2 separate regions of the Homo sapiens genome follow, and region 1 is linked to region 2. A link means that fine-mapping ties the variant in region 2 to the plasma level of a protein whose gene starts in the linked region. Region 2 holds a variant in brackets. A gene starts in the other region. All regions are shown on their reverse strands.

Region 1 (2,905 bases), not on the chromosome of region 2:
CACCCTTGAGGCAGGAGGGGCACTGCGGGCACAGAGGCCACCGCCCCTTCCCACCCAGCAGCGTCTTTTTGGGCCACTTGGCCTCTCTGAGCCCATTTTCAGGTGCAGTCCAGGTGGGGCGGGGCTGGGCCAGTGAGCAGCCTGGGGAGCCCCTTGTACTCTCTAGGGTGGGGCCTGTGGGCCACTGTGGGGTGGGGAAGTGGGTGGGGAGACCCTCCCTGAACAAGAATTGTCCTCCTGGGGTAGGGGTGGGGCTCGCAGAAGAGGGAACTGGCTTCTACACTCACCCCTTTCAGGGAGGCCACCATGGCGGAGTAGAATAGAGCTGCCTCCTGAAAACCTTGGCCCAGGCCCGGTGGGTCCACCCACAGCTCAGAAATGGGGGTCACACGCTCATGCTCAGCAGCCCCATCCACAGGCAGAGCCTGCCTGGTCGGCCCGGCCACTGGGGAATGTCGCGGGGAGGCACACAGCCTCCGGGTGACAGACTCTACTCCCCCAGGCCCCAGAGGAAGTGGGGAGGCCCCTGAGGCTCTGAACACCTTGAGAAGGTGGAAGAAAACAGACCCCCCCCACAGCCAGAAAATGGGCAGTGAGTGGGACCCCCAGCCCTTGGGGTGCGTGAAGCCAGGAGGGAAACGTGGCCATCGGATCACAGGGGACCTGGGCACTCCCCACCCCAGCTCCATGTGACCCAAGGACCTCAGCACCTGGGATGGGGGCTCCCCGAGAGCCCGGCCCTTCCTGCTCTGAGGGGCCTCTGCAGGCCATGGGGGGCCCTGGAATCTGCATCCTTTACACCTGCAGGAGAGCTGGGCTGGGGCCGTGGAGGCACCTGCACTGCCTTAGGACTGCCGCTTCCAAACAAATGGGTCTGCGTGTGCCCTGCGGGGTGAAATCTGCGTCCAGCTGAAGCCTGACCATCGCTCTGGTGCTGGAAGCCCGGCCTGGGGCGGCCCCAGTTCTCCAGATGGAAGGTGCAGATTCCATCCACACCACAACAGGAAGAGCTCAAAGGTTGTTACTTACAGATCCCAGGGAGGGAGGCACCGTGGGTCCACCGGTAGCTCTCTGTCCGCGCGTCACAGCAGACGGGAGTGGCCGGCCAGGCAGAAAGAGGAGTGCGTGGCGCTGGCAGCGCCCATGAGGAACAGGACAGCCCCTTTCAGATCGCGGGCCAATGCCCACACGTGGGCCTCTAAAGGGCGATGTGAAAGGGGAAGCCCAGCCCCCAGGCCTCTGAGGCCTTCTGCGCAGTTGGGTAGGGAGCTTTACCCCTAACGCCCGGGCAGCCCCCAGCCCTCCAGGTCCCGAGTGGCCCCTCCCAGGTCTCAGTGGGCCCTGCCCAGGGTAACTCTGATGTGCAGGGTGATTGGCCACACCTGAGCCTCCTCTGCCTCGGTTTCCTCAATTGGGAAGTGGGGGTGGAGAGCCTGGCAGCCTCCCGGGCCGTCAAAGGGAACAAATGACGGCTTTGCCCGGGGCAGCAGGGAGTGGTGGCGCCTCACGCCCCAGGAATGTGTGGGTGGAGACCCCGCACAGGAGCCTTGGACAGGCAGCGGGCCAGGCCTGGGGGAGGAGGGATGCCCAGGAAGGCAAAGCTGCCCTCGGTGGGCGAGGGTGGGAGCCCGGGCCCAGGTTTCACGGCTGCCCTGGGTGGGTGTGGGGCATGTGTAGGAGCCCGGGCCCAGGTTTCATGGCTTCCCTGGGTGGGTGTGGGGCGTGGGTGGGAGCCTGGGCCCAGGTTTCACGGGATCCCACTCTGATTCTCAGGTGCTGAAACCCAGGGAGCACTGGCCCCCCCAGTCGCAGGTCAGCAGGCTCTGGATGGTGGCCACGCAGCCCAGACAGGACTCCCGGGAGCACAAGCCTGACCCCCAGTGCAGTGTGGGCCTCGCAAGGCTGTGAGCCGTCCGTCTCAGGGCTGTGGGAGCACACAGGTCAGGGAGGCAGGACGGGGCCCAGCTCCAGGCACACGCACACCCCTTTCTCGCAGGGTCGACTGGAACAGAGCTGCCCCCGGGCGCTCTCTGGCCTGGCGAAGTGGGAGCTGTCTTCCCTACGCATCTGGGCTGGCTGCCTGCTGCTGATGGAAGAGCTGCTCCTCCTGACCTGGGGCCACAGAAGCCCCCTCCCTGCCCCTGAAACCCCTCCCAGCATGTCGTGAGCTCTTATCCCCAGTACGGAATCTGCCTCCGCTATGAACACCTGCAAAGGTTTGTGTGCTGAACGGAGGTGTGCGCGGCGGTCATCTCTGGTCTCTCCACAGAGTGGGTTTTCTATCGTGACTCGCGGTGGAATCGGACCTTCACGCACACAGAATTCAGCAAGGCTGCCAGGTGTAAGCGTCAACTTACAAATGTCAAGAAGGGATTAAGGGCCTTTTAAAAACTCCCTTCCGCAGAGAACAACTGAAAAATTCCAGACACTCTTGTAGCAAACCAGTTACCCAAGGGCTCTGGGGAGGGGACAGAAGGCAGCCGGCTTGGGCGGGAACTCACAGGTAAAGGGAGAGGCCAGCTCCGAGTGGCGTTCCCTTTGTGTCCACACAGCTTTGCTCTGAAGGAGCCGCAGGTTGGCTGCGGGGCTGTGAAGTGGCCCAGGCTGCCACGGACACCCACAACTTTCCCGGCCAAAGGCCAAAGGAAACCAAGGAAGGAGCCCAGAATACTCAGGGCCCAGAGCTCGAGGAGAGGCCTGAGCCGGAGGAGCCAAGGAGGCGCCCACGTGCCCAGCTGAGCCCTGAACTGAAGGAGCCGAGGAGGGTCCAGGAAGAGCTCGGAGGGCCCCGTAGACACGGCTGAGCCCTGAACAGGAGCCTCAGAGGGGCCCATGTGCCCGGCTAAGCTCTGAACCAGCCGACTGCAAGCTGCGGACAATGATGAAAACGCGCTGTGGCCAGCCT
Region 2 (2,905 bases):
GCAGCTATGATCCTGCCACTGCACTCAAGCCTAGGTGACAGAGTGAGACCCTGTTTCAAAAGAGAAAAGAAAAAAAAAAACTTCTAGATCTAGCTTTTACATTTAACTTATTTTTTATGTTCATCAATCTTTAGCTGTATTCAGTTTTGTTTTGTTTTTTGTCTCAATAACTATGGTTTTCATTTTTAAAGCCTCTAATTGGTTATTTTTCAGAACATTTGATGGATGCTGTTTTATCCTTTAGGGGCCTGAGGATCTTAGGTATTTGAAGACCTTTTTGGATGCTCTGTTTTCTCTGCTTTTCGGGGGGCCCCATGGGGGTCAGAACCTAGGTTCTTCCAGCCTCCTCAAAAGTGGCCAGCAGTCCTTGTGTGTGTGGCTCATGGCCGCTGAGAAGCAGCCCTTGCTCACCACTATGATTCTTCATTTTCTTCCTTAGAGGATACTTTTTCATTTTGTTTAGGCATTAAACAGAGTTTCCTTTTTTGTTTTGGTCCTAGCTATACATGCATTAATTATGCATTAATTTATGTTTATATCTTTAAGTCATTTTTTTTTTGGCACAGGAGGGTGAGCTCTCCGCATGTGCTCACTCTACTACCTTGTACTGGAAGTCCCTGGACTACTTCTGCAGCTGATTTATAGTTCACTGGCAAAGCACTGTCTCCCAAGGTCTCTGTGTGGTCTTTTCAGCAGAGACTTAGATACACATTTTAATGAAATGGTAGGTGGTTTTTCTTTCCCTTGGCAAATTCTCTAATGTCTTGGGGCATTTTACATTTCTTTTAGGTTCTTTTGGTCCAGAAATGAGATGCTAAGAATGATTGAACAGCGTAGTTGGCCTGATGTGTTTAGTACGCATGAGGAGCGCTGCTGCCTCTGTTGGGTGTGTGCCTGTTTAGGCCTCATTACTCCTCCCACTCACAGATTTTTGCTATCCCAAATGGCTTATCTACCAGCCTTCTTTGAATTCCTTGTCTGGATATCTTTTCCATTTAAAATTCATGTCAGTTGAGCACCCGACCAATTGACACTTTTGGGTTTCAGCCAATACATTGCTTAAGGTAGATTAGAATGGTAAGTAGATGGCCTGGCACAGTGGCTCACTCCTGTAGTAC[C/G]AGCACTTTGGGAGGCTGAGGCAGGAGGATTGCTGAGGCCAGAAGTTCAAGACCAGCCCTGGCCACAGAGTGAGATCCCATGTCTACAGAAATATAAAAATAAAAAAAATTAACTGGATATGGTGGTGCACCTGTAATCCAAGTTACTTGGGAGGCTGAGGCAAGAGGATCCCTTCAGCTCAGGAGTTTGAGGTTGTAGTGAGCTATAATCATGCCAGCGTACTCCAGCCTGAGTGAAAGAGCAAGACCCTGTCTCAAAACAAAACCAAAAAAAAGAATGGTAAGTAGAATTATAAAAGCTCAGCTATAAGAGAGTCATTCATAATTGAACTAATATTTGTTGAGCAACCAGTGTGTTCCAATTGTGGTTTTCAGTACACATTGTGAATGCAATGAAGACAGAGATGAAACAAGTACTAGGGTCCCTGCTCTCGCAAAGTTTACAAGCTCATAAGTGAAACCAACCAACAAATAAAAACTAATTACATATAATAGCAAATTATGATAAGTATTATTTAAAAAGAAGAGGATACTATGAGAGAATATAGCAGGGACTTCTAATTTAAATTTTGTAGTCAGGAAAGGGGTTTTCAAACTTTTTAAAAAAGCAGTAGAACATTTTATTCCTATGAAATGTTATGTGGAATAGAAGTGGAGCTACCCTTATTGGAACAAGATTGGGGCCTAACATCCTTCGTCTGTTCCCCTTGCTGTTCATCATGGTCACTGAAGCACCATGTGGCATCCTCAGATCCCCAGAGCACAGCATGTGAAAATCAGTGCTCTAGAACCAGCCCCTGTCATTTCACAGACCAGTTAGCTGAGACACACAGGGCTTCATTGTCCAAAGTCATGCAGGTCACATAATCCACTTAGTATCAGAGTTGGAGCCAGAACCAATTTTCCCAAACTTTTTCCCACTCTCCACTGCCCCCCTTTCCTTCCTGATATGGTTGTTTTTGTTTTTGTTTGTTTGGTTTTTTTTTTTGCAATGACACGATCTCGACTGAGTGCGTCCTCCGCCTCCCCGGTTCAAGCGATTCTCCTGCCTCAGCCTCCCGAGTAGCTGGGATTACAGGCACCCTGCCACCATGCCTGGCTAATTTTCCTATTTTTAGTAGAGACAGTGTTTCACCATGTTGGCTAGGCTGGTCTCAAACTCCTGACCTCAGGTGATCCACCCGCCTTGGCCTCCTAAAGTACTGGGATTACAGGAGTGAGCCACCATGCCTGACCTTGATATGTTTTCATTATAAAATTATGGTATTTCAATCTCATAATCTCAAACATTCTATAGATCTTTTTTTTTTTTTTTTTTTTTTGAGACAGGGTTTCATTCTGTTGCACAGACTGGAGTGTGATGGCATGATCATGGCTCCCTGCAGCCTCAACCTCCCAGGCTCAAGCAATCCTCCCACCTCAGCCTCCTGAATAGCTGGAACCACAAGAATGCACCACCACACCTGGCTAATTTTTGTATTTCTTTTGTAGAGATGAGGTTTCACCATGTTGCCCAGGCTGGTCTCAAACTCTTGGGCTCAAGCAGTCCACCCGCCTCAGCCTCCCAGAGTGCTCCCAGTGAGCCACTGCACTCGGTCTGTAGTTTTTTCCTGTAATTAATTTTACCCATTATTGTTCACATTGCCCTTCACATTCTGCACTGTGTCCCTCATCTATATCCTTAGAGTTTGTAGCCTTGAAAGATGATATCCCACTGTTATTTTGTTTTTATTATATTTCTGATATGAATCAGCTCTTTCATCTTCTGCTCAGTAGTCTAACACATG

Which allele goes with the higher level. Positions count from the first base shown, and alleles are read on the strand shown. Strength reflects both the effect of a copy and how common the allele is.
In carriers of allele G in region 2, the plasma level of the protein whose gene starts at base 1,470 in region 1 tends to be lower than with C alone (weak association).

The links. PIP is the chance, under the fine-mapping model, that this variant and not a neighbour inherited with it causes the effect. The UK Biobank Pharma Proteomics Project read protein levels with antibody pairs (Olink). The fine-mapping took linkage between variants from a reference panel, not from the people measured, so its PIPs are less certain.
Region 1: it holds the start of MSLN, and the variant in region 2 is fine-mapped to the plasma level of the MSLN protein (UK Biobank, PIP 0.96).

What each region holds. Positions count from the first base shown.
Region 1 is chr16:759,299-762,203 of GRCh38, reverse strand. MSLN (mesothelin) reads right to left here and starts at 1,470. Exons shown (of 18, transcript NM_005823.6): 1 at 1,383-1,470; 2 at 1,030-1,131. RefSeq lists enhancers at 1,514-1,532, 1,698-2,223 and promoters at 1,514-1,532, 1,054-1,534, 1,040-2,889.
Region 2 is chr2:25,498,383-25,501,287 of GRCh38, reverse strand. All of the region lies in intron 9 of DTNB (dystrobrevin beta), which reads left to right. Among named protein-coding and RNA genes, the nearest start is that of DTNB-AS1, 79 kb to the right of the region's middle. RefSeq lists a cis regulatory region at 2,096-2,106 and an enhancer at 2,034-2,178. The variant C/G (reference allele first, on the strand shown) is at 1,119.